Linked DNA regions of Homo sapiens: regions 1, 2 and 4 are each reported to be linked to region 3. Evidence: microRNA targets listed by miRTarBase, many of them from high-throughput screens and not tested one by one. Region 3 holds a microRNA gene; each other region holds the end of a gene's coding sequence.

Region 1 (7,121 bases), not on the chromosome of region 3:
TCCCAAGGGCAGTGGTGTGAGGTACTGAAGCTTAGGGGTCAGAAGTCCGGCTGAGTGTTACCTCACTCTTGAGACAAATTACTCAACTTCTCTGTGCTGCTTCCCTTGTCTGTGAAATAAATCCAAGCTCTGCAGGGCAAGGCCCATGTGTGTTCATTCTCCAGTGTGTCCCCAGCACTCCTCACAGGGCCTGTCACAGAGTTAGCATCCAATGTCTAATTACCCAGGTCACATTCTTGTATCTCACATTGAGGACTTGGGCTGAACAGGGTTTTTATGTTTTGATCACAAAGTATCGCTTAACTAACTAATTATTGTCTTCAAAAAACATACATCTCCTGAGTTGTTTCTTACCTTTCTGCTCAGGGTAAGGGGACAGGGACATTCCCATGGTCTCCAGGTAGCATTCGATGTTATGAAAACCTGGATTCCAGGAGCTCAGGTTCTTTCTGTGAGTTGATGTTCATGGCCGCTGTTTTGGGAGCAGCCTTGTCCAGGGCAAGGTCACCACTGCCCTCCTTTTCCTGTCTCCTCCCCAGGTACAATTTTGTGATGCTGGCCCTGTCCTCCTCATTCCTGGTGTTATCCTATCTCTTGACCCGTTGGTGTGGCAGCGTGGGCTTCATCTTGGCCAACTGCTTTAACATGGGCATTCGGATCACGCAGAGCCTTTGCTTCATCCACCGCTACTACCGAAGGAGCCCCCACAGGCCCCTGGCTGGCCTGCACCTATCGCCAGTCCTGCTCGGGACATTTGCCCTCAGTGGTGGGGTTACTGCTGTTTCGGAGGTGAGACTCCCTGAGCCATCATGCCACATGCTTCTGCAGCTGCCCCGCTGTCTCTCCCGCTAGGCCTCCTCTTCCCAGGTTTTTGCCTCCTCCTGTCCCCTCCCCAGGCCTCTAGGGCAGCATCTTCTGATAATGTGACAAGAGAATGTTGCCAATGGGGAAACAATGGACCTGCAGTATGGCTGTTATGCCTTTTATCTGACTTAGAAGCTGGAACCACAGCTGTCTTCCCTGGCTGGTCCCAGAGGAAGGAGGTATAGACTGAGGAACAGGCACTGACAATGGTTTCTTTCCCCAGGTATTCCTCTGCTGTGAGCAGGGCTGGCCAGCCAGACTGGCACACATTGCTGTGGGGGCCTTCTGTCTGGGAGCAACTCTCGGGACAGCATTCCTCACAGAGACCAAGCTGATCCATTTCCTCAGGACTCAGTTAGGTGTGCCCAGACGCACTGACAAAATGACATGACTTCAGGGAAGCCTGGACACCCGAGGCACCTGGACCAGCTATGGGTAGTTCTGTGGGTGGAACACATTCTGTGTAAGAGCCCCACTGAGGGCTCTGCAGCGGAGTGACAGCAACCCCAGAGATGAGGCACCAGAGAGTGCCACTGCATGAGACACCTGTGACCATTCGAAGTCTGAAATGCGGGGGGGGAGTTTCATTTTTAAGTGAAGACCAAAAGCCCTTTAAAAATAATAGTTTTTTATCATTTTATAGTAATCAGCATTTTCTCTTTTACTAATATACTCATTCCTTTTGCGTATGATTGGCCTTTGGAGCTACATGCTCCAACAAACTATATCTTAATTGTTAACTGTTAATAATTATCTGGCCCAGAAAAAGAGATGCAGTGATTTTACCCTTCACAGGAATATTGAACTTCTTCTGTAAAAGAGAGAGAGAAACCTCTCTCTCTCATGCACCACATGGAAACAGAGTGTGGCCCTGAAGTTGTGGCTTTCTTTGTGTCAAAACTGTGGTCTGAGTTTTTAGAGAAGGAAAAATGCTACTCAGTGAGAAATCCAAGAAATGAAACCAGGAAGGTTTTCAGATCACATTTCCCAGAGTGAGTTCGGGAGAATCTTGCCTGTCGTGATCACACTGTTCCCCGCCGCCCCAGGTCAGCACATACTTGACCCAGAGTGGGCTCTCAGGATTTGTTGATTGAAGGGTGGGTGAAAGCTGGCTGGAGACTCCTGGCCTGGCCACCTGCAAGAGGCGGACTTTGAAGAAAACTGTGATCCAGTTGAGCCACTTTGTCCCTGAGGGGAATGCTGCTTTGCAGCTTTCTGTAACTTCTCACATGGGAATTGCACTGGTGACAGATAAGGTTTAACAGATGTACTTTTTTATCCTCAGAATAAGACAAGGCAAACTCTATATGGCTAGTATTACTGAGTCAGGTCCCTCCCGTTGACCCATTAATTCCAGCATTGATCAATACAACCAAATTCCAGCCCCAGGACAAGAGTGGCAGGCATGGGGGCCTGGTACTCCAGGCTACAGTGTGAGCCCAGGTGTTCTGCACCTTGCAGCCTGCACACTGCAGGTGAAATCATGAGCAGTGTTCTGGAGTGTGAAGTGTTTTTATTTTTTTGTTAATGTATTAATTCCTTTTAGATATTAACCCCCCTCAGAACTATATGCACAAACTATAACTTGGATGTTAATAATCCTGTCACTCAGTGCCCCAAACCTTCTGTGTCTACACCTAGAGAGAGGGCCAGTAAGGGCAACTCCTATCATGCATTAAAATGCATGTATTTAAATCTGCTTGCCCAGAGCCAGTACCCAGGGGCTAAGGATTAAGACCTGTCAGTACACCAAGACTGGGGCCCAGTCACCTGGCAGGTTTTTATCTACTCAGAGGGAGAATGCTTTGCACTAAGTGGGAGAAAAGCAGCTAAATGCAAGGTGTCCTGAGCAATTAGAGGACCTCCAAAGCATGGCCTCAGTCATGCCTTCATCGGGCAAGGTCAGGCCAGCTCAGAAAAATGGATGGTCCCATAGGGTCAAGTGGAGCACACACGGAAGGCAGTCCTCCTTCCCTCCCATGTCCTTTCTCTGTCCCTGGCATCCACAGAAAGGGACCTTCAGTCCTCATGAGCTGCTTCTCTGCAGCTGCTGATCACCCTCCCGGAACCCTGCACCTATCCCGTGCCCACCTGACCCCAGACTCAAGCATGATCCTCATTCTACCTGCCTCGGAATCACCTGGATTGCAAGTCAGAACATGGCTTCCCAGGACCCACTCCAGGCCTTCAGGGTCTGTGTCTCCCAGGAGGAGGGCTCTGAGATTGGCTTTTCTGGCAAGCCCACGTGGCTTTGATGCCACCAAGGTTGGCATGCCCCATTGTCTTCCTTCGTGACAGGCCCAGGACCATCATGCTCATGCTCACAGTGCCTGTTCTCTGCTCCAGGAACAGAGCTGCTGCTCTACAAGCAGCCTTGTGACTCCGGGGTCTCTGGGAGCAGGACTCCCCAGGCTTGTGCTCTCTCAGCTTGAGAGAGGCTCTATGTCTGAAGGCAGTGCTCACTCTCTCATCCCTCCCCTGCTGTTCGCCCAGTGCTGCTGTCAGGGCCAGCTCCTCTTGAAAGACAGCCAGCCGCAAAGGCAGCCCAGGGCTTCTTCCGGTGTCCTGCTTCCCTGTATCTAGGGAGAGTTGTACATGTGGCTGCGTGTTTTCCCAGGACTAGCCCTGCCGCCTGGGCTGTCAGCACTTTGGCAGCAGGTCCTCTGTGGTTCTCTGCCTCTGGTGCCTCCCTAAAGCTCAGCTGGACCTGACCAGGCCTCTGGCATTTCCCCTGCTGGACCCCCTAGAGCCACAGCTGTGCCTCAGGGAGCTTGCATACATGTGGGCCAGCCTGCCTCACTTTACCCAAGTGGATTTGGGGAGCAGAAATCATACTTTTGGCTTTCAATACCACTTATAGTGAGGCTACTTCTCCATGGAAACAAGTCTCTGAGGCACAACCTTTATGAAAGGAAGGAGCATTCGTTGGTGAGAAGAACAGTATCGCTGACTTCCTGTGCTCCTCTGGCCACAGGTAACTGTTGGTCACTTCAGATTTGGCTTGGGGTCTCTCAGTGAGGAGCTGCTGCTGTGCTGTTTAATGCTTACCTGATGGCAACTTCTGGCTCTGGAACCGCTACTCTGCCCTGTTCCCAGCCACTTCCCAACCTGATTCAAGCAGGGCCCCTCCTTCCTCCTGTCTTTATTTATTTATTTATTGAGACAGAGTCTCACTCTGTCGCCCAGGCTGGAGTGCAGTAGCGCGATCTCGGCTCACTGCGAGCTCTGCCTCCTGGGTTCAAGCGATTCTCTTGCCTCAGCCTCCTGAGTAGCTGGGGCTACAGGCGCCTGCCACCACACCCGGCTAATTTTTGTATTTTTAGTAGAGACAGGGTTTCACCATATTGGCCAGGCTGGTCTTGAACTCCTGACCTTGTGATCCGCCCGCCTCAGCCTCCCAAAGTGCTGGGATTACAGGCGTGAGCCACCGCTCCTGGCCTATTCTTTTCTTTTCAGAGACAAGGTCTCACTCTCTCCTCTCGCCCAGGCTGGAGTGCAGTGGTGTCATCATAGCTCATTGCAGCCTCAAACTCCTGGGCTCAAGCAATCCTCCCACCTCAGCCTCCTGAGTAGCTGGGATCACAGGTGTGTGCTACCTCACCCAGCTAATTTCTAATTTTTTTTTGTAGAGACTGGATCTCACTGTTGCCTTGAACTCCTGGGCTCAAGTGATCCTCCTGCCTCAGCCTCCCAAAGTGCTGGGATTCCAGACCAGCCATTTTTTTTCCTTAATCATGCATTCCTGTTGCTAGTTTCACATCAGTCCCCTGGTTTAATAAGAAATAAAATATTTTCTTCACACTTTTGAAAAGACCTTTCTTCTTTCATACCCCTTCTCCCTCCAAAAGGGACAAAAATTCTTTAATTTCATAAGGAGGGTAGGTAAGTAACTTGAGGATGTGAACCTTTGGTGTTCCTCAGCTGGAACGTTTCTCTCTCTGTTGATGTTGTAGCTGGGACTGGGCTTCTTGACTTTGGAAGAGGGATGGTATCCTGGCACCTCCTGTGTCTGGGACTGAAAGGCCTGTGGTGTCTCCTTTGCTCCTCTCCCCATCCCCCCTTAAGCTGTATTTCCCGTTGTTTGCGGGACTTCTCTCCTGTCTTCTCCATCTGGCCTGGTCCTTGTTTTGTTTGTTTATTAAACGGCCATTCCTTGAGAAGTCAGGACTAGTTTCAGCACAGAGCAGGGCAAGTGTGTGATTTCAGGGGGTCTAGGACAGCCCCTTCACTCTAATATCCTCCTCCATCAGGTGATAGAATTTCCTTTCACCTAGTTCAAAGACTGTTATTTCCAGAATTTCCTTTCACCTAGTTCAAAGACTGTTATTTCCAGAATTAGAGAGGATACTGGAAATTCAGATTCCGCAGAGAACTCGGTGACTCATTCACACTAAGATGTAAAATAACCCCATCAAGATTTATTTCCTTTTTGTTCTCTAGTGAGAGGAAAAAAGAAAAAAGAATTCTTTGCCGGGCCAGGCGTTGTGGCTTGCGCCTATAATCTCAACACTTTCGGAGGCTGAAGCAGGAGGATTGCTTGAGCCCGGGATTTTGAGACCAACCTGGGCAACACAGGGAGACCCCATCTCTACAAAAAAATTTAAAAACTAGCTGGGCGTGGTGGCACGCACCTGTAGTTCCTATACGGGAGGCTGAGGTGCAAAGGATTGCTTGAGCCCAGGATTTCAAGGCTGCAATGAGCATGTTCGCGCTCCAACCTGGATGACAGAGCAAGACCCTGTCCCCCCACTCCAAAAAAAAAAAAAATTATTTCCTGAGCAGCTTTTGATGTTGAGGAAGAGACAGGCAGGAGCTGGGAGCATCCAGAACCTGGAGGAGGAGGGGCTCAGGTGAGAGGCTGGGCAGGCCCGGACGGTGGGAGCTGTGAGTGTTGCTGTGTGGCCTCTGGGATGGATGGAGTTCAGTTCACAGTGGGAAATCAGGGGCAGCATGATCCCTGGCCTAGTCTTAGAAGAGCCATGGCTGAAAACGGGGTGGGGACTAAAGAAGAGAGAGAATCCGAACAGGGGATATCCTTCACATATTTTATTTATTTTTTGAGAGAGTCTCGTTCTGTTGCCCGGGCTGGAGTGCAGTGGCACGATCTTGGCTCACAGCAACTTCTGCCTCCCAGGTGCAAGCAATTCTCGTGCCTCAGCCTCCCAGTAGCTGGGACTGCAGGCATGCACCACCACACCTGGCTAATTTTTGTATTTTTAGTAGGGAGGGGGTTTCACCATGTTGGCCAGGCTGGTCTGGAACTCCTGACCGCAAGTGATCTGCCTGCCTCCGCCTCCCAAAGTGCTGGGATTACAGGCGTGAGCCACCGCGCCTGGCCTCCTTCACATATTTACACACTCCTGCAGTTTATGGGGGCCAGGCACCGATGGCAAGTGAGACGGGTGTGCAGGGGGCTTGCTAGTGAGGAGAGCTTCCACCAGCAGCTCGATCCTGAGCACCTTTGGGAGCTGACCCACGGACTCATGAAGCTGCTTGCACAAGGTTCTCAGTGGCCCTAAGGAAGAGTTCTGGAAGGCACACTGGAAGCCGGGAGGCCTGTGGAGCCTGTCAGAAAGGACCAGATTTGGAAAGAAGATGAGCTAAGGCTCAAGTATCAGGGGTCCCCTAGAAATTTCTCAAAGACAATGAAACACAATGGACTAGAAAAAGCAACTGAAAGCCGGGCGCGGTGGCTCCCGCCTGTAATCCCAGCACTTTGGGAGGCCGAGGCAGGTGGATCGCCTGAGGTCAGGAGTTTGAGACCAGTCTGGCCAACATGGTGAAACCCCGTCACTACTAAAAATGCAAAAATTAGCCGGGCATGGTGGCAGATGCCTGTAATTCCAGCTACTCAGGAGGCTGAGGCAGGAGAGTCACTTGAACCCGGGAGGCAGAGGTTGCAGTGAGCCAAGATCGCGCCACTGCACTCCAGCCTGGGTGACAGAGCGAGACTCTGTTTCCAAAAAAATAAGTAAAAAAGAAAAAAAAGCAACTGAACAAGATCACTACTCTAAAATTTATTTACTGAATATTCCATGAGTGTCCAGGAAGTAACTGAGACTTGTGTATTTAATTTGGAAATGAGACTTCTGAGACAATCAGATGCAGACGAAAAATTATTTGCTTCACTATTATTTACTTACCTGAGTGAATTGGTCCTTAATGTTGTAAATATTTCATTTGCTAACTAGCTTTCAAGGTGGCAGAAAAGGTGTTTTACTTGAAGAATTTGAGGAGAGGGAAGACTTACTGATTTG
Region 2 (7,103 bases), not on the chromosome of region 3:
TCCAACTTTGAATTTTATGCATATTCCAGAAAGTTGACATTTACCTTAAGCTGTAAGACAAAAATCTTAATTTGTCTTCATTTATTGTAATTGCATAAAAAAGAAAATATCCTATTTCTTTCTCTTTTTTTTTCTTCTGTTTTTCTATTTTTAGAGACAGGGTCTTTCTCTGTTACTCAGGCTGGAGTGCAGTGATATAATCATAGCTCACTGCAGCCTTGAATTCCTAAGCAAGTGGTCTCCCCTCCTCAGTCTCCCAAAGCACTGGGATTGCAGGCATGAACCACTGTGCCTGGCCAGAAAATATACTGTTTTTCACTTGGGATTGTTTTAATAATAGCAAGTTATGAAATTAAATGATGGCATAGGGTAGCTGCTTTAGAAGTGATGTGGTGTCCCACCACACAGAAACTGAGCTGAAAGTTAGAAACCAAAAGACTTGAAAATACTGGTATAATTATTTTCAGGAATGATCGATCTAACAAAATTCAAAAGTAACAAAGTATTTTGGATTGTTTTAAAAATAGTTTTTGTTTACCTTTCTACCAGCAACTCGTATAGGTTTTTGGATAAACTTTATTGGACTCATGATTTGCCTTAAAATTTGAGGATAATTTTTTTATCTATAGGGTTTTGGACTGACAAGGAGGAACTAAAGAAACTGAGACAAAGTGAAGTGGTTTTCAAGCCACAGAAGAAATGTCAAGAATATGAAATGAGTCTGGAAAACTGGGCCAAAGCAGTGAAACGCTCCATGAATTGGTATAACAAGACATAACACTAAATGAAATGATCAAAACCATAGGTAGCTGGTTTATGTGACGTGCAGATGAGATGAAGCTCAGGGATAACCCATATGACAATGACTAAGAGGAGAAAATTTTAAATAAGCTTCATAACTTAAGAAGCATTGCTTTTAAAAAAACAAAACGGAACAAAAAACTCTTATTTTTTTCCCCTAAACCATGGTAAGGCAGCAATACCTCAAAACTTTATATCTTCTATTTTGTAGCAAATTCCAAAGGACATTAGTCATTTCCAACCACATTTTGACAGTTATGGGTCCTCTTCCTTTTTATACTGGGTCAGTGGTACATAGGAACATAATGATTTACCATCCAAGCTAATAGTTCTGGGTCAAGTACCATGCACATATTGTTCCAAAATTATGTGAAACGTATTTCTTTAATTCTTTAAGTGGGCTATTTGAAGTACATATAGCTAAAAAGAAAGAATAACTGAGAAAATGTGGAATTTTGAAACATTAATATTTTATGTTTAAAGCCATAATTTCCTAATATTATATCCAAATATGAGCTTAATATGTCCCTCTCAGATAAGCTTATGAGATAGTTAATGCTTTCCTTTACTGGTCTTAAAGACACTGCCTTAATTTTTCCTTGTTCAACCAAAATCTGAGCATTCTTTCTATGTTGAAAACACTGAAAAACTAATTTTAGTTAATGAACTAGAAAGAATATTGATTTTTAAGAAACAGAAAAATACTACTTATTTTCCTTCTCAAATAACGTTTCTTTCAAAAACTTCTGGCTGAAGTATAACATGCTGGTAGTTAACATAAATCTTGTCTTTCTCTTGTTCTTTATCTTTCTTTGTTATTTAGATGCTTGTATAAATGTCTTTTGTTTTTATTAAGTGCCTAATTGACAGAGCTTAATTTGAAGAAGTGCCCTAATTTATTGACCACTTAAGAATTGCCTTTATTGGGGTATTTTATTTGTTCCTGCGTCTTTTTGATGTTTGTTCAGTCTACTCATCCCTGTGAGTATGTGTGGGGGACAGCTGATAGAAGGGAGGAGAGTGTGTCTATGCTCAGGATTGCCCTTTAGCCACTCAGCCAGAGATCCACAGGGAGCAACAAGGACAGTTTCACATGCTTAGACTTTCTTGGAAGAAACAGTGAGGAGGAGTAAGTCGTGAGTAGTGTCAAGCTGGATGTAGAATTGTCCTAAGGCAGTTGACCCCACCTTCCAACATGTTTTCACTTTATTTGCCCCTCCCTACATTTGGGTTAGGTTCCATTTGGATTTGCAGCAATAATGACTTTATTTCTCTCTTGGTCAGGATTTGGCACATAAAATCCTTTTATTATAGAACTAGCTATTTTAGTTACATAGTAATGTAACTAATGGAGAGATTTATAGAGAATTTTGTTTTTGCTGTCATATATGTCCATTTTGGAGACAGATATGATAGAACTAGAAATTAAGTTGCATTTCTGCAAGTGCCATTTGAATGAACTTCAAGTATCTTCTTAATTATTAAATTTTCTGATGAAGGCATTGTAACAAATATATAGTATTATTAAATCTAATTAATATTTGGAAATATTAATAAATAGGTATTTTATTTACTGTAAAAAGTCAAACTTCATTATGTAGATAAATCTTATTCTTTTCATTCTTTCCCCTGTTTACATCCTTTTTACAAAGCTTAGTCACCAATTAAAGCTTTCCTATCAAAATCACATGGAAGCTGCTCTGTTGTTTTACTGTTACACATTCTGTTTCTCAGTGGGTGTAATTTTTTTTTCTTTTTCTTTTTTTGTAGAGACAGGGTCTTGCTGTGTTGCCCAGGGTAGTCTTTAATTCCTGGCCTCAAGTGATCCTCCCACCTTGGCCTCCCAAAGTGCTGGGATTGCAGCCGTGAACCACTGCACCCAGCCAATGGGTGTAATTTCATAGGAAATAATTCTTTTTGTCAGAATGTACTGAATTGTAATATTAATACCTGAAAATTTGTTAGTTCACTTCTTTTCCACGTTCTTCTTTCCCAACATATAACCACAAAATAAAGGATAAATACTTTGGGCTGTGTGCAGTGGCTCATGCCTGTAATCCCAGCACTTTGGCAGGCTGAAGTGGGCGGATCATTTGAGGTCAGGAGTCCAACCTGGTCAAACACGGTGAAACCCTGTCTCCACTAAAAATACAAAAATTAGCTGGATGTGGTGGTGCAAGCCTGTAATCCCAGCTACTCGGGAGGCTGAGGCAGGAGAATTGCTTGAATCTGGGGGGTGGAAGTTGCAGTGAGCCAAGATCATGCCACTGCACTGTAGCCTGGGCAACAGAGCGACACTGCGTCTCAAAAAAAAAAAAAAAGGATCAATACTTTTCAGATAATGTTGGAAAGTAACTTTGAATGTCCCTCATCGGAATTGAGCATCTCCTCAAGTGTCAGTGGCTATTTTTTTCTTCTGTGAATCTAAAAACTAATATTTTATTTTTAATATTTGTGGCCATTTTTAGTGATAAGACTTTAATAAATATTTTTGGACTTAACTAAAATCAGAAACATGACCACATTTGCTTTTGTGGTTGCAGAAACAGTTGATAAGATCAATTGAGCAACAAAATTGTCCTTTCTTTTTTTTTTTTTTTTTTGAGACATTGTCATGCTCTGTTGCCCAGGCTGGAGTGCAGTGGCATGATCTCGGCTCACTGCAACCTCCCTCTCCTGGGCTCAAGCAGTCCTCCTGCCTCAGCCTCCCAAGTAGCTGGGATTTCAGGTATACGTCACTACGCCCAGCTGATTTTTGTATTTTTAGTAGAGACAGGGTTTTACCATGTTGGCCAGGCTGGTCTCAAACTCCTGACCTTGTGACCCACCCACCTCGGCCTCCCAAAGTGCTAGGATTACAGGCGTGAGCCACCATGCCTGGCTTGTCCTTTCTGTCTTCCAAGTTTGTTTTTCATTTGTATGCTAATATTTGAAGTTTAGAAAAATTTGTGCTACTTCTCAGCATGTTTTATTTTCCCATTATAGATCTATCAGATATTTTTAGAAGGTCTGCAACTGTCTGATAAAGGAAGAGAATGTTCCTGTTCAATCTATCTTAAAGTGCTACTAATTGCTTTTATACTATAGACATACTGATTTTTTCATCTTTTTTATCCAACCATGGCATGGTTTCCTAATCTCAGCATTGACATTTTGGACTGGATAAATCTTTATTTTGGGATGCTATGCTGTACTTTATAGGATGTTTAGCAATATCCCTGACCTCTGCCCTCTAGCTACAAGTACCATCCCCCTAGTTGTTATGGCCAAAAATGTCTTCAAACATTGCCATTCTGAGAGGCAAAATTGCCCCCAGTTGAGAGCCACTGATACAGGCTGTTAGAAGAAAATCGAAGACTCAGTGAATATAGTGTCATACTCCTTTTCTTTCTGCCTCATTTTACCTTAGGAAATGGTTGTTAGCAAAAAAATTAGTTAATCGTATCTTGAAATAAATAGGGTATCTATTTTGCTGATTAATAAAGAAAAAATAAATCTCAGCTGGGCACAGTGGCTCACACCTGTAATCCTAGCACTTTGGGAGGCCAAGGCAGGCGGATCACTTCAGCTCAGGAGTTTGAGACCAGCCTGGGCAACCTGGCGAATCCCTATCTCTACAAAAAATACACAAATTAGCTGGGTGTGGTGACACACACATATAGTCCCAGCTAATTAGGGGGCTGAGGTGGGAAGATCACTTGAGCTCCAGGAGGTGGAGGCTGCAGTGAGCCAAGTTGGTGTCACTGTACTCTAGCCTGGGTGGCAAAGTGAGACCCTGTCTCAATCAATCAATCAATCAATCAATCAATATCTCATGCTGTAATTGTCTTCTGATGTTTTCATCCACCCAGCCCCACCTCTGCAGCCTTAATTACTGGAGTAGGTCCATGATTTCAGTGTAGGGTTAATGTATTCTGCAGATCATCTTTGATTTGACCTGCTTTTTTGCTTCCTTTTTATCTCTGAACAAAGGAGATCATCATTCTCTTTAATCTGCCTTCTGTGTAAATCTCTACCAGACTGGAAGCTCCCTGAAAGCAGAAACTGTCTGCTTCCCCAGAACTTAGCACTGTGCTTTCATGTATGTGGGATAAATTTTTACTTTGTTAGTGCAACTTTGTTTGTACACGTTATCCTTGATATTACATACATTTGTTGATGGGGGCAATTTATATTTGTTGTGAGTAAAATACTTTTTTGTTGGATTAAGAAGAACTATACTCTTCCCAGCACTTTGGGAGGCCAAGGAGGACGGATTACCTGAGGTTAGTAGCTTGAGACCAGCCTGACCAACATGGAGAAACCCCATCTCTATTAAAACTACAAAAAAATTAGCTGTGCGTTGTGGCACATGCCTGTAATCCCAGCTAGTCAGGAGGCTGAGGCAGGAGAACCGCTTGAACCCCTGAGGCAGAGGTTGCGGTTGAGCCGAGATCGCGCCATTGCACTCCAGCCTGGGCAACAAGAGTTAAACTCCATTTCAAAAAAACAAAAACAAAAACAAAAACAAAAAAACAAAAGAAGAACTACTCTGTAGTGAGAGCTAGAATCCTCATGTTGTTTATTTAAAATTTTTGGCCAAGTACAGTGGCTCATGCCTGTAATCCCAGCACTTTGGGAGGCTGAGGCCAGAGGATCACTTGAAGCCAGGAGTTCAGTTACAGCTTGGGCAGCAAAGTGAGACCTTGTCTCTACAAAAAAATTTTTTTTAAATTAGCCAGGTGTGGTGGTATGCCCCTGTAGTCCCAGCTACTCAGGAAACCGAAGCAGGAGAATCGCTTGAACACAGGAGTTTGAGGGTGCTATGAGCTATGATTGTGCCACTGCACTCCAGCCTGGGCAACAGGGCAAGGCCCTGTCTTAATAAAATAAAATAAAATTCTTAATATGTTTATATATTTGAAAAACTATTTGTGTAGAGACACATGTCTGTAAATACACATAGATATATTAACTTTTTAAGCTTTAATTGAAGCCTTTCTCTTCACAGGTTTTATATATTTGACTGCAGATGACTAACAGATTGAATTTTAAGAGTGCGAAACACTCTGGTGCTATAGGGAAGGAACTTCATAAATAGCCCCTCCTGTAAGGGACCAGTCTTTAATTTAAAACAGTCCAGCCCAGGAATCTTGCAAGAATTTTGTAATTATTTGAGGAGAGATGTAGATATACCCTGGAGTTCTTTGACTTTAAGTTATTCTAGAGTCATCCCAGAGATGGCCTAGAAGACTTGAATGTACCCCAAAGGATTCTGAATCCCTTTGGGAAATTTAGACTATGATTTTCAGTAAGAATTAAAAGCCCCAGGATAAGCGTGGTGGTTCACACCTGTAATCCCAGCAATTTGTGAGGCCAAGGCGGGAGGATCGCTTGAGCTCAGGAGTTCGAGACCAGCCTAGGCAACATAGTGAGACCCCACCCATCTCAATTTAAAAAAAGAGAGAAAAAGGCCAGGTGTAGTGGCTCACGCCTGTAATCCCAGCACTTTGGGAGGCCAAGGCGGGTGGATCACCTGAGGTCAGGAGTTCAAGACCAGCCTGATCAATATGGTGAAACCCCATCTCTACTAAAAATACAAAAATTAGCCAGTCCTGATGGCATGTGCCTGTGGTCCCAGCGACTTGGGAGGCTGAGACAGGAGAATTGCTTGAACCCGGGACGTGGAGGTTGCAGTGAGCCGAGATTGGGCCACTGCATTCCAGCCTGGGTGAGAGAGCGAGACTCTGTCTCAAAAAAAAAAAAGAGAGAGAGAGAGAGAGAGAGAGAAAGCCCCAAACATACCTTGGGCCTTTACAACCTACTTGGTCCCAGAATCGTCTTATTGTAAACCCAAAGCCAGGTCTTCTGGTTCGAACCAGTCAAAATGGGTAATCTAAAAAAGTTAAATAGATGATTCAAAATCGTGTTGGTGGTTTTTTCTTTTTAAATCCCCTTTCCAAGTAAAAGGAATCTTTTTTTTTTTTTTAAGTTTTGAAGCCTCATAGCCATAAATATTTTGGCACCAGCATCTATTGGCACCTAAGTCATTGGCTGTATCATATTCCCATGGGACCCTTGTTCCTAGAGGAATGCAGGAATGATCTTGGAGTGGGAAGGACAGAAACAGGTGCTTGCAAAATCAGATATTTCTGAAATTCTCTGTTATTCTATTTCTACTGTCTTTCCCCACTTTACTATAAATTTGATCTGTTATAAAATGGCTGTGTTTAGATAGATACCCGTGATGTTTAGGAAACAAATGATATAGAGACTCCCATTTAAATGAATCTTATCTTTATAAGAAACAGCCAAACTGTTTT
Region 3 (7,121 bases):
TAGATATATACCCAACAGAGATGATGCACAGCTATACTAAAGAGCATGCACGATAATGCTCTTAGCAACATTATTCATTAATAACTGAAAGTTGGCAACAGATGTAACCCAGATGTCCATCAATCAATAAATTGTGATATATTCACATAATGCAATACAATAAGCAATGTAAATGAGCATACTACAGCTACACACGAGTACGTGAAAGACTCATAAACGTAATGCGAATGAAGGAAGCTAGACGCAGAAGAGTGCATGTTTGTATGAGTCTGTTCATATGACAGTAGGAAACAGGAACGACTAATCTACAGCACTTAGATGTTGGGGTAGGAATTACTTTGGAGGAGGTCGATCTTTTTCAGGGGAGAGTCTTCTTTTGGGGAGAAGGTCTTATAATATTTTATTTATTGACTTGGGACATGATTACAAGGAAGAGTTCACTTTGTCTTAATGCATTGATCAGTACACCTTTAATGTATACACCTTTCCTTTTTCTTTTCTTTTTTTTTTTTTTTTTTTGAGATGGAGTCTCGCTCTGTCGCCGAGACTGGAGTGCAGTGGCGAGATCTCAGCTCACTGCAACCTCCGCCTCCCGGGTTCCAGCGTTTCTCCTGCCTCTGCTTCCCGAGCAGTCGGGATTACAGGCACCTGCCACCATGCCCAGCTAATTTTTGTATTTTCAGTAGAGACAGGGTTTCGCCCTGTTGGCCAGACTGTTCTCAAACTCCTGACCTCAGGCAATCCACCCGCCTTGGCCTCCCAAAGTGCTGGGACTACAGGCGTGAGCCACTGCACCCGGCCTATACACCTTTTCTGTATTTTTATTTTTAAAAGTTCCCAAAATTGAAATGGTCAGTAGGCCACTGCAACCAGCCTATACACCTTTTCTCTATTTTTATTTTTAAAAGTTCCAAAAATTGAAATGGTCAGTAGGCCACTGCAACCAGCCTATACACCTTTTCTGTATTTTTATTTCTAAAAGTTCCAAAAATTGAAATGGTCAATAGGCATATGATAAAATGAACAATCTAACTGGTAAATCCAGGAAATGCAATTTAAAATGACACTGTTTTTTCTGCACATGACGCTGGCAGTTTTAACAAAATGATTATGTCCAACGCTGATGAGTATAATGGTGGCTATAAAAATCAGAACAGAATTTTGGGGGAGAAACTCAATATTATTTACAAAAATTTTAAATGTGCATGCCCTTTGATCCAGAAATTCCACTTCTAGAAATAATATCCTTCAGAAACACTCATACATACACACACCCATTTGTGTATAAGAACATTTGTTGCAGCATTGTTTGTAATGGTGAAAAATGGAAAACCACCTATGTGATCCTTTGCTAAAATAGTGGGTAAAGAAACTATGATACATCTAGAAGGAATGCAACAGTTAAAATGGGGGATGCCTATATGCACTAACACAGAAAGAGCTACAGGGAATGTTGTTAAGTAAAAGAAAAAAGTAAGTCAGAGAACAGAACATGTCATGTGATCGTTTATGCATAAATGACCTGAATGGGCCGGGTGTGGTGGCTTACACCTGTAATCCCAGCACTTTGGGAGGCCGAGGTGAGCAGATAACGAGATCAAGTCCATCCTGGCCAACATGGTGAAACCGCGTCTCTACTAAAAACACAAAAATTAGCTCAGCGTGGTGGCGCGCACCTGTAGTCCCAGCTACTCGGGAAGCTGAAAGCTGAAGCAGGAGAATTGCTTGAATCCAGAAGGCAGAGGTTGCAGTGAGCTGAGATTGTGCCACTGCACTCCAGCCTGGGTGACAGAGGAAGACTCCGTTTAAAAAAAAAAAAAAAAAAAGACCTGAATGTCCTTAAAACATTAAAACCACACACACAAAAAATTAAAACAACGGAAAATATCTGATGTGGTTCATTTATCTAAATACTTCACAAATCCTAAGACAAATAAATTTAACTTCTCTCTTGAGAAGTTATATGCACTGTATAAGAATTCTCTGGAACTGTCTCTCTACACCAAACCTGAAAGGACTGCACCACAATGGGAAGGAACTATTTCTTGTTCCACAGCCTCCTAGAAGAGTCTCAGTGTCTCCTCAGAAATGCCAGCTCCCACACGGGCCTGAGCAATAGCTCATGGAGTCTCTCCAGACCTTTGTGCTTCTGAGGCACTTTTCAATAATTAACTAATCTGCCTAAAGGGTGGGGCGGGCTATGGCTCCCACAGACTCAGCACTCCCTTCAGCCAGCTGCCCTCTGGAATGCAAAGGCATCCATCCCCTAGGAATGGCTGTTGGTCAATCCCTGCCCCACCACAGCCCCCAAACTCAGGAGGGTGAAAGGGCCAGGGCAGGAAAGCAACTTCCCCTCTCAGATGTTCTCCTGGAGAAATTATATTACTCTCGCCTACCTCCACCTCTCCTCTGTCATGCTCCTCCAGCATCTGAAAAAGAACGTTCCAACAGGCAGCAGGACAAATTACATGTCAATGCTGTCAGTTTCAATGCTGCCCTTTGTTGCTCCAGGTCCTATGAACCACAGAAAAATGTATAGGTCCTTTCCATTTTTTTTTTCTTTCTGGCACAAATAAAATAAACAGCAGAAGCAGTTTCTATTTCAGTATTTTCAAAGGGATGGTGTCTGGAGGAATGGTTCCCAATCTTTGGAATTTAACAAACCATTAAAATTTTGAAAACCTTTTGAGAGACTAACATAGGACTGCTCACTTCTATTTTGCCAAGCACAGACACTTAAAAAACAACCTGAATTATTGTCACCATCATTTTATGGTGGGAGATGATTGGACACTTTAACCCCAAAACAATGTAATCATGACAATCTCAGATTTTAAAACAGGACTTCAAATTTAATACACTCAGATGCATGAGAAATACACATGTATTTCACGTAGACTGGTGAACACTTCCTTACAGACGCACCAGCCCCTTGGAAAGAACTGGCAGAGACTAAATCATAAGTTTCCAAACCTGACTATGCCTGAGAAAGATAGGAAGGCATTAAAAATAATAATAATAATAATACAGATTCCAGATTCCCACCCCATCCATATTTACTGTATCACCTTCTGAGGATTTCTTGAGACGGAGTTTTGCTCTGTCACTCGGGCTGGAGCGCAATGGCACTATCTCGGCTCACTGCAACCTCTGCCACCCAGGTTCAGGTGATTCTTCTGCCTCAGCCTCCAGAGTAGCTGGGATTACAGGCACCCACCATCATGCCAGGCTAATTTTTGTATCTCTGTAGAGAAGGGGTTTCACCATGTTGGCCAGGCTGGTCTTGAACTCCTGACCTCAGGTGATCCACCTGCCTCGGCCTCCCAAAGTGCCGGGATTACAGGCGTGAGCCACCTCGCCCGGCCGCCTCTGAGGCTTTCTAAGGGTGGGGCCCTGGAATGTGTATTTAAAACTTTTTTTTACTATGGTGAAATATACATAATATAAAATTTACCACTTTAACCATTTTAAGTGTACAATTCAGTGGCAATAAGGACATTTACAATGCTGTATGTAACTTTTCATCATCCCAAACAGAAACTCTGTACCTGTTGAGCAATCACTCCGCATTTCCCCTTCCCCCAGCTCCTGCCAAACCTCTATTCTACTTTCTGTCTCTGTGAATTTGCCTATTCTAGGTCACTCAAAGAAGTAGAATCACACAATATTTTTCCTTTTGTGTCTGGGTTATTTCACTTAGCATAATGTCTTTGGTGCTCATCCGTGTCATAGCAGGTATCAGAATCCCACTCCTTTTTGTGGCTGAATCCTTCTCCATTGCATGCATTTGCCACATTTTGTTTATCTGTTCATCTGCTGGTGGACGGTTCTGTTGTTTCTACCTTTTGGCTATTATGAACGGTGCTGCTATGAAGGTTGTTGTACACGCATCTGTTTGAGTTCCTATTTTCTATTACTTTGAGTATATACCTAGGAGTGGAATATGCTGGATCATATGGAAATTCTGTATTACCACCAAGGAACAATCAGGCTGTTTTCCACAGTGGCCGCACCATTTTACACTCCCTCCAGCAATATGCGAGTGTCCCAAGTTAGCCACATCCTCACCGACATTTGTTGTTTTCTGTTTTTGTTTTTATTACCAGCCATCCTCATAGATGTGAAGTGGTATCTCATTGTGATTTTGATTTGTATTTCCCTAATGATTAATGATTTTAAACATCTTTTCCTGTGCCTATTGGCCATCTGTGTATCTTCTTTGGAGAACTGTCTATTGAATTACTTTGCCTATTTTAACATTAGGTTGTTTGGTTTGTTGTTGTTGAGTTGTAGGGGCTTTTAACATATTCTGGATAGTAGTCCCTTATCAGATGTGTGATTTGCAGGTATTTTCTCCCATTCTGTAGGCCATCTTTTCATTCCCTTCACAGTGACCTTTGATACACTGAAGTTTTTTATTTTGATGAAGCCAAATTTGTCTATTTTTTTCTTTGGCTACCTGTGCTTTTAGTGTCACATCCAAGAAATCTTGCCAAATCAAAGATTATGAAGATTTAGTTTAGGTCCTTGATCTATCTTGAGTTAATTTTTGCACATGGTATAAGGTAAGGGTCCAGCTTCATTCTTTTGTAAGTGGATATCCAGTTTTCCCAGCACTATTGAAGACAAGGGTTTGTTTCCCGGCTCTCTATTTTATTCCATTGATCTATACGTCTGTTCTTATGTTACTACCACACTACGTGGTCTACTGTAGCTTTGTAGCAAATTTTGTGTGAGAAATCTCACCACGCTACCCGCTCCAGAAGTGCCTGCAGGAAGGAATGAAAGGACACAGGGGCGAGCGAGTCTCTGAGTATGAGAAGATCGTTGACAGCCCTGGAGCAGCAAGGGTGCTCTGGTGTGCGGCTTCCACCCTTCCCCTGATCGCAGCTGCCTCTGTTGGGCTAGCTCCTCCAACCATAGTGCTTGGTCTGTAACCACCAGAGTTCTGGGCAAGTCCTTAGTCTGAAAAAGGATGAAGAGAGGAGGTGTTGTGTGCAAAATGTGATTCACAAGAGTGGCCAGGAGTCAAAGGCCTCTGTCCCTCTTTTTTTTTTTTTTTTTTTTTTTTTTTGAGATGGAGTCTCGCTCTGTCGCCAGGCTGGAGTGCAGTGGCGCAATCTCAGCTCACTGCAACCTCTGCCTCCCAGGTTCAAGTGATTCTTCTGCCTCAGCCTCCCAAGTAGCTGGGACTACAGGCGCCCACCACCACACCCAGCTAATTCTTGTCTTTTTCGTAGAGACGGGGTTTCACCATATTGGCCAGGATGGTATCAGTCGATCTCTTGACCTCATGATCTGCCTGCCTCGGCCTCCCAACTTTTTTTTTAAATTAAGGAAATATCTCTGAGTCATAAAAGACCCCTCCTTGAGCTTTCATAGGCCAAGCAGACCCTGCTGCAGCAGGAAAAAGGAGGTTTCTTGACACAAATTGATTAATTCAAAGTTATTCTAAAACATTTTCTTGGCCTATTCATACACAAAGGCACAAAGATCTTGGACAATGGAAAAGCATCACAAAACTTATATTTAGAGAAACTACTTTCCACAGTTTCCTTTGCCCTTTAAACTCAGTCTCTAGCTGGGCATGGTGGCTCATCCCTGTAATCCCAACACTTTGGGAGACCAAGGCAGAAGGATTCCTCGAAGCCAGGAGTTTGAAAGCAGCCTGAGCAACACAGCAAGACCCCATTTCTATTAAAAAAAAAAAATTAAAAATAACTAAATAAATAAACTCATCCTCTCTTCTCCCTACCCCCAGTCTTCCTCAGGCACCAGTCTACGTTTCTAGTAAAAACTTGCTTGGCCACTTGTGTAGAAAGAGGAATTAATTTAATATTTGAATACTCAGCTGACTGGTTCTCCATGGGAGCAAGTAGCCAAGTAAATATCCAAGAGAGAACGAGGGAAGGGACAAAATGGCACCAAGCCTGAATTGTGAAGTCCTCTATCATCCTGCAACACCCTGGATATGCAAACCGAATATCCTCTCTCTTGGTGAGTCACGGCCTCCCACGCCCAGCAGGGTGTAGAAACATTTGACTGAAACCTGTATAAAATAGTAAGAACAAGTCAAGCAGGTAAAACATTTCCTGGCTGTCAGTTTAATAAAAGGTTCAACCCTGCTTTAAGATGGAAGGAAGACGGGAGGCGGGGTTTCAGAAATACAGGTTTTACATAATCCCACAGAAACCAGGGATCTGCAATAAGGCTTGAAGATTTTTAGTCTCACAGGTATTTCCGTCTGTAAACACAAATGCACATGGAAGCTCTGAACACATAGTTTGTGTTTGTTTTATATTAAGAGGATGGGCATTTCTTTAGAGCTCCAGGCGTTGAGTAGATGACCATTTGGAGGAGATGATGAGTTTCCTCTTCAAAATGCAAGATGTCGATCAACATTCATGCTGTTCCTATTTCTATTTTTTTCCTCCCTTCTACCCCTTACTCCTGAAATGGATAAGAAGAGGCAATAATAGCATCCCAGCAAATCAGAACTGGCTCAGATGCCAAAGGCCTAAAAGAGACGATCGCATTAGCAAGAAGGCCTGTGACTAAAAATCCAAAACCTAAAACTACTATACGTAAACCTAGGGCTCAAATAGCCTACACTACTGTGACATCAGAAGCATTATTTCTCAAGATTGAGAAGGGCTAGTGAAAACGCTTCTGGGCCTGCAAAGCTGTGAACTGATGTGCAAGGCTGCAGTAGCCCAAGCTGATCCTGATGAACACTGGAGCTGTCTCTGCCTCTTTATGTAAATAGAAAATGTTCCTAATAAACGTGTACTAGGTCGTTGTCGGTAAACACATGTTAGGCACCCGCTTGGCCTGCACCGATCTGACCAGATCTATTTCCATTTCCCCGAACCATCGCTTGGATGATGAAGCACATCGCAGAGTACTGCTTCATCACCATTCAGGAATTGTACCCTTTTAAATTTCTATATGGGTATGCGCTGCTTTTGACACAGCTTTTGTTGTAAGCAGGCACTAAAATAGAAGCTTATAATTAGCTATCTGGGGAGGCAAGTGTGTGGTAGAACAGAGCTCAGCAAGAGAAAAGTCAAGGCAGGTCCTGGGGAAACACTGCATGGAAGATGAGTAATACAGAGGTATGT
Region 4 (7,121 bases), not on the chromosome of region 3:
TTGTGCATGTAGGAGAGCAAGAGCCAGGGAGGGGTGTTTATTTTTAGGAGTTGGCTCCTGTGATTGTGGAAGTTGGTAAATCCAAACGCAGCAGGGTGAGCCAACAGGATGGAGACCCTGGGAGAAACTGATGTTGCAGCTCCAGCCTGAAGGCAGTTTTCAGGCAGAATTCTCTCTCCCTGGGGGATCTTCAGTCTTTCTCTTAAGACTTTCAACAGGTTGAATGAGGCCCACCCACATTATGGAGGATAAATAGCTTTATTCAGGGTCCACTGACTTAAATATTAATCTCACCTAAGAAATACCTGCACAGCACTGGGCTGGGAGTGGTGGCTCATGCCTGTAATCCCCGCACTTTGGGAGGCTGAGGCGGGCAGATCATCTGAGGTCGGGAGTTCAAGACCAGCCTGACCAACATGGGGAAACCCCGTCTCTACTAAAAATACAGAATTAGCTGGCGTGGTGGTGCATGCCTGTAATCCCAACTACTCAGGAAGGCTGAGGCAGGAGAATCGCCTGAACCCGGGAGGCAGAGGTTGCAGTGAGCCAAGAACGTGCCATTGCACTCCAGCCTGGGCAACAAGAGCAAAACTCCATCTCAAAAAAAAAGGAAAAAAAAAATACCTGCACAGCATCATCCAGATTAGTGTTTGACTAAATATCTGATTACTATCGCCTAGCCAAGATGACACATAACATTAACCATCACAGGCCAGACCTGGTGGCTCATGCCTGTAATCCCAACGGTTTGGGAAGCTGAGGCAGGAGGGTCATGTAAGGCCCAGAGTTCAAGACCAGCCTGGGCAACAGAGTGAGACCCTGTCTCTACAAATTTTTTTTTGTTTTTTTTTGAGATGGAGTCTCACTGTTGCTCAGGCTGGAGTGCAGTGGCACAATCTCAGCTCACTGCAACCTCTGCCTCCCAGGTTCAAACAATTTTCCTGCCTCAGCCTCCTGAGTAGCTGGGACTACAGGCGCGTGCCACCACGGCCGGCTAATGTTTTGTATTTTTAGTAGAGGCAGGGTTTCACCGTGTTAGCCAGGATGGTCTCGATCTCCTGACCTCGTGATCTGCCCGCCTCAGCCTCCCAAAGTGTTGGGATTACAGGCGTGAGCCATTGCGTCCAGCCCCAAATTTTTTTTAAAAAAATTAGCTGGGTGTGTTGGTGCATGCCTGTAGTCCCTGGTACTTGAGAGGCTGAGGCAGGAGGATACTTGAGGCCAGAAGTTTGAGGTTACTGCGAGCTATGATCATGCCACTGTACTCCATCCTGGTGACAAAGTGAGACCCTGTCTCTTAAAAAAAAAAAAAAAAACCATCACAGTACCCCTCATCCATTGTGAGGATTAAATGAGGTAACATACAGAAAGCGTCTGACAGAACGGTCCAGGCACTAGGGAACCAAAAAGCACTCTTGTGTGCACGTGCGTTTAACTCCTTTTATCAATGGCATGATTTTAAAGCTGTTTCACCCGAGTACACAGCAGGGAAGCCATCCTTGGAGAGCTGAACATGCACGAAAAGGAAAAAAAAAAAGCTTCAGGGAAAAACACTTGAAATTTTCATTTATCAGAAAGGATTTTGAAATATCTACTGTAACTTTCCCCCCAGTCTTTAAGATAACATAACTCAGTATGGCATTATGTTGGTACCAACAGTTGCTCTCAGTGGCATATTTTTTCCTGAGAACAAATATATCTGTGGACATCATCCCTTTTCAGAGCAAATATTTTGTAATGCCCCCTTTATTAACCTAAAATAAAATTTACAAATATACTCAATTTATATCATACCAATATAATGCCCTATTATACTGTAATTTAAAAGAAATTTAAAAGTAATTTATAATACTACTTTAATACATAAATATTGGGGCAGTAGATTAGAAAATATAATGAAGTTGGCCAGGCACAGTGGCTCACGCCTGTAATCCCAGCACTTTGGGAGGCTGAGGTGGGCAGATCTCCTGAGGTCAGGAGTTCAAGACTAGCCTGGCTAACATGGTGAAACCTCGTTTCTACTAAAAATACAAAAAATTGGCCAGTTGTGGTGGCGCATGCCTGTAACCCCAGCTACTTGGGAGGCTGAGGCAGGAGAATCACTTGAACCCAGGAGGCGGAGGTTGCAGTGAGCCGAGATTGCACCATTGCACTCCAGCTTGGGCAATAAGAGCAAAACCCCATCTCAAAAAATATAATGAAGTAGGCATCTATATACAGAGTCTTCATGAATGCAGGGGCTACAAATGAAGACTGACAGAGATGTCCTGTATTGGTGACTCAAATTCCATGGGTACCATAGCTACCAAACTATGTTACCATTGGAAACGCAGTTTTCCAAAAGTATATCAATTCTTGGTAAAGACCAAGTGACCACTTCTTGCTAAAATTCTAAATCTTACAAAGTAAAAATCTTCCCTCAATTTATACAACAATTGCATTCCTGGAGAATGCATTATATACAAAAATCATGTAAAAATACATTGTGTTTTTTATGTATAGCAGAATTATCTGCTTAATTATAAACAGGCTTTTTTAGCCATATAAATGTCCAGCAGGACATTTAAGGGTTACGCAGGAGGTGGGTGGGACAAGTCCTCATCCCATGGGGCTGTCTCACATGGTGCAGGACCTCTCGCCTATCATCTGAGCCCCCAGCCTCTCTGTGCCAGTAACCCTAACCTGGCATTATGCTAACCAAAAATGTCCCTGCATTTCCAAAACACCCCGGTTAAAAACCACTGAGATAAATAATCAGCTTGTTTTCAGCACGAATTATTAGAAATGAGACCTCTACATTTTATTAAATATAACAAATCGCATGCAGCACCAGGAAAATGTTCAAGATAAATTCAAAAGTTTTATTGCACCAAATGCCACAGAAAAATGGATCAAAATAATACATAAACAAGTTAAAAAAAATTCCCACACAATGACATTGGTATCTATTCAGACTGATCAAAAACGAAGTCCTATCAATTTCTCTTATGGAGCTTCAAATGACAAATTCCAGAATTTTCTCGTTTTTGAAATACCACTTAAGTTTAAGCATATTGCAATCTCACTTTCAAGATATATCGTTCATCATATTTTGACATTTAAAAATTAACATTCAGAGGGGACTTCTTGATTTAGGCAAAAATTATATTAAAATACCCTCTCCCCCAAGCACAATAAAAAACAAATGGTTCACATTTACCAAGAGAAGCTGAAGACATTTTCAATTTAACGTGGAAGTATGCATGAACAAAATATTCTCTAAAGTACATATTAGCGGAAAAATCCAGACTTTAAAAGAATTTTGGGATACTTTATATTCTTTATTATTTTTATGTACAACCAACTCTAGTGAAGAACCTAAAAAGCTACAGACTAAATTTTTATAAAATCTCAGGACCTAATTATAAGAGCCCAAACAACGGTTTAGTATCATTTAGCAAGCGGGGATTTTTCTCCCTCCAAAAACGTTAATTTTGAAAAATATGGTTAAGTTTAAAAAGTTGCAATGTGTAAACGGCAGTTCCATGGGATGTGAAAAGATTATAGTTACTTTCATTAAAAAACAGCACACTTCGAAAAATGGATTGAAGCCTGTACAAAAAGCTATTTAACACTGATTGATAAAAAATAAAATACTTTGGAATTATGCACAAGTATGGAAGCTACATTTTAAATTTTCATTGTCATGTCTAAAACGTACACAATTACCTTTACATTCATTTCACTTACCAATTTATTAAAAATAAAACTGCAACATGCTAGAAAGAGGTCCATCACAGGGACATTTACAGACTTCTGCTCTGTCATGCCTCACTAGCTTGCTTGGAAAAGCAAGATGCTACAAAAGTTACACTCAACAGGTAAGACTTAAAAGTTGAAGAAACCCTAAAGGTGGAATCCTGTCAACTGAGGTAGATTTCTTTTCTTTTTTAAAAAAAATTGTTTTATGTTTTTTCTTGAGGTGGGCATGGGAGCAAGTGGGGTCCCTTTCTTGCCTCTGCGGCTAAGCCAGAATGAAGCCACTGGGTGGTGTACGGCGTGTGAGCGGTGGATCTCAACACAATTCTGTGAGGTTTTTTTTTTCTTTTTTGCTTTTAGGAAGAGGCTGAATTTAAGACAAAGAAAACTTGAATGTTAAATATTTAAAGGATTATAAAAGAGCAGCAACATTCTTGGTCTATTTTTGTAGGCAATAGATATGAGGATTAGGTTCTGACTGGAATCCTGAGTGTCACGGAGACAGCCCCCACATGTGACCCACCTGTAGTTTTCCAACAGGCATTTTTCCAAGAGTGAGTTTTGGAACATTAAATTAAGAGCAAATTAAATTTTCTCAGGCTTTGAGGGGCCTGGGCTGAATTTTTTTAATGTATAGAGTTTAGAATCAACGATTTAAAGCTCAGTGTCCCCTATATGGGTCTAATTATGAACATGCCACTATGTCCACATTAGAATTGAACTGATTTTGTAACAAGTTATTTTCTATGAAACCCTGGAAGGTGGTGAATGAGGGAAAGTGCCCAAAACATGTAAACAAGAAAAAAGGAACTAGAGACGAGGGGAATGCTTTAAACTGTAAAAGCTGTAACATCAGCTCTGACAGTTTATTTACACGTAATGAGAAACGGATGTGGGGTGAGCTGAGCCACAGGTGAGGTTCCTTCTCTCTCTGTAACACAACAGCAAACAATGATGTCATGGAACTACAGAACTTAAAACACCAAAGTCAAATGCTAGGCAAAAGGAAATAGGAAAACATTAAAAAGAATGAACATTTCAATTTTCAATGAATGACATAAAATGATAAAGATCTTACAAAACTTAATGCACTCATCTACATTTTGCATCATTAAAAAAGGGAAAGGTAGCAGTTCTGATTTTTATCAAATGAAAAAACTGAAGTCATTCTAGTCCCTAATAGGGAAATTACTTCATAATCTTAGGTTCAAAGATACATGAAAAGAACTGGAATTAATTCATAAAACAGTGGAAGGGAATCAGAGCCTGGTTAACTGCTTGAGATCTGCAAAGTGCTAAAGATGTTTTGCTTTGCTAGCTTAGCTCCTGTCCTTTAATGACCAATATTTAAAAGTCTTTTACTTTACCCTGGATGTCAGTACATAGTCTGTTTCACGGTCAGTAAACTGAAGTTTCTTTTATATTAACAGAAAATTAGGTTGTTTTTTTTTTTTTTTTGCATGAACTTTAGGAAATCATTTTGGTCGGTTTTATACAATGTGTAAGTTAATGTCTGGAAAGATGTTTTGAAAAGGATGCAGGAATTAGAAGGCACAGAAATGATAATATAAAAATTTAGATCATATATGAATTTTTTCTAAATGTTCAAGCTAATTGCTTTCATTAGTCATCCTGAACTGCTGCAGGTTTCATTTCCCACCAGGACAGCTGTGCCTTTTAAAGTAAAAATAGTCATTTGTATTAACTATAAGGAAAAAGTGGCTTCAGCTGGAAGAACTTACCAACCGAAACACTCTTGAGCTTATAGAAATAACTTTGGTAAGTGGCCTCTCTTAAAAAGGCTGCTGAAAGCTCTAAAATATAAGGATAAAACATACGGTTTCAGACTGTACACTTTGCTGCTACAAACTACATCTTGATGGGATTAAGAGGCTACATTGATTCTTGGGTTTATTGCACCAACAATCCATCTCTGACCTACCCATGGCTGCATCTGAAACAAGGTAAACTCCAAGAAGAAATGAAAACAGTGGGTCCCTAAAGCACTCTTCCCAACAAGCAATTCTTACATGTTTTATGTCAAACAGTCACTGCTAAAGCCACTGGAGCTGAAGATGGCACAATGTGGCTTTCTTTGCTTTACCTTGTCTAAAAAGCAAACTGTGACCTGGAATCCAAAGTCTGTATTCTGATTGTTGTCTCAGAATAGCAAAATATGTTTTCTCCAGTTTGGGGAGCTCATGCTTAAACTTGGAAGCAGTTTCCTACTGGAATATTATGTACACTGCTGACCACCCCGCTCAAGTCACTTGTCTTTATTCTGCCCAAACAGCACAAGGCAATCTGTTGCAACAGCTTAGTGTTTAGTGCTTATGTTTCCTCCTACCAAAAAGGTCAGTTTCTTTGTTGATTCATGGGTAACAAATGGCCTAAAGTGTTCACGACAATCACAAATGCTATTATGTCAAGTAAACCTAAGTCTTCAATGAAGCATCAGCTTGACAGCAAAAACACAAAACAAAAAGGTGGAATGACTGTTTCTGTTTGCTCTTCTCATGCTTTTGACATCACAGAGAGCTTATTCCTTTCTCCTTCAGTTGAGAATTTGATTTTTTTCTTCCAAGGAAGAACTGTCCTGAGCTTTAGCTTATAAGAGTATTTGAGCCACATAAGGAGAATGAGTACTGGCAATAGCAGTCAACAGAGGCAGGTCGTTGGATTCAATCCTGAATATTGAGAAAAGAAAAGAATATTACTTTAAAAGAGCATGGTTTTATGAGAAAGTATTATTTCTTTTTATGAGAAAGTATTATTTCTAGGTACTAAGTTTGATAGATTATCATTTAAAACTAATGAAAAAGCAAAACAGATGGAAGGATAATAAACTTACTCTTTTAATAAAATATTCCAGTGGACACTGACCAGGGAGGCAAAGGGAGAGAAATACAGGAAGTGTGTTGTGCCTGTGTGTGGACATAAAGCTCTTTTTCCCTTGGCAGGGGTCACCAGACTTTCTAACTTTCCTGTATTCCCTATATAACTTCATTGTATCATACTTTAAGGTATTCTCCATTATAAACTCATTCTTCCAGTCAACACTTCTAAATGCATACTGATTTTTCACCTAAGTTCAAATTGGTCTTAGAAAAACGATGATGGTAGCAATTTCTTAAAAAACATTGGGAATTTGTTCAAAGTTTATACTGGGATCCTCACTGAGCATTTAAGCCACAAGATTCTGAGAGCAAAGTGACACTAAAAGGTACTGGGTTAAGAGACATCATGGTTTCAAATGGACACAGCTTTGGCTGCCTCTCTTACAGCAGAGGTGGATACAGTATGGGCACTGGCTAAAAATGATGCCAGGTGTCATGAAAAAAAAAAATTGAACTGTTTCAGTTTGTGGACTATGTCCTAATCCT

The links. Region 3 holds the annotated microRNA hsa-miR-6076 (AGCAUGACAGAGGAGAGGUGG, at 2,399-2,419, opposite strand). A microRNA usually pairs through its seed, bases 2 to 8, with sites in the 3' UTR of a target mRNA and lowers its output. Matches are read on the target gene's strand: a 7mer-m8 pairs with bases 2 to 8, a 7mer-A1 pairs with bases 2 to 7 and ends in A, and an 8mer does both.
Region 1: the mRNA of RFT1 is a reported target of hsa-miR-6076. Seed matches in the 3' UTR shown: 7mer-A1 at 1,706-1,712, 7mer-A1 at 2,533-2,539, 7mer-m8 at 2,745-2,751 and 7mer-A1 at 4,597-4,603.
Region 2: miRTarBase lists GK5 as a target of hsa-miR-6076. Seed matches in the 3' UTR shown: 7mer-m8 at 3,413-3,419.
Region 4: miRTarBase lists FNIP2 as a target of hsa-miR-6076. Seed matches in the 3' UTR shown: 7mer-A1 at 5,196-5,202 and 7mer-A1 at 3,240-3,246.

What each region holds. Positions count from the first base shown.
Region 1 is chr3:53,086,037-53,093,157 of GRCh38, reverse strand. RFT1 (RFT1 glycolipid translocator homolog) reads left to right here. Exons shown (of 13, transcript NM_052859.4): 12 at 540-789; 13 at 1,088-4,675. The coding sequence ends at 1,255. Among named protein-coding and RNA genes, the nearest start is that of RFT1, 41 kb to the left of the region's middle.
Region 2 is chr3:142,159,297-142,166,399 of GRCh38, reverse strand. GK5 (glycerol kinase 5) reads left to right here. Exons shown (of 16, transcript NM_001039547.3): 16 at 630-7,103. The coding sequence ends at 778. Among named protein-coding and RNA genes, the nearest start is that of TFDP2, 13 kb to the right of the region's middle. RefSeq lists an enhancer at 1,376-2,111.
Region 3 is chr14:49,961,697-49,968,817 of GRCh38, reverse strand. It overlaps MIR6076 (microRNA 6076), which reads right to left and starts at 2,419; the gene lies at 2,307-2,419. It overlaps LOC100506446 (a long non-coding RNA gene), which reads left to right and starts at 5,786. Exons shown (of 6, transcript XR_007064156.1): 1 at 5,786-7,115. RefSeq lists a silencer at 3,553-3,622 and enhancers at 6,851-6,940, 6,991-7,121.
Region 4 is chr4:158,903,770-158,910,890 of GRCh38, reverse strand. FNIP2 (folliculin interacting protein 2) reads right to left here. Exons shown (of 17, transcript NM_020840.3): 17 at 2,841-6,425. The coding sequence ends at 6,347. All of the region lies in intron 4 of SPMIP2 (sperm microtubule inner protein 2), which reads left to right. It also overlaps the pseudogene LOC124900178. Among named protein-coding and RNA genes, the nearest start is that of SPMIP2, 130 kb to the left of the region's middle.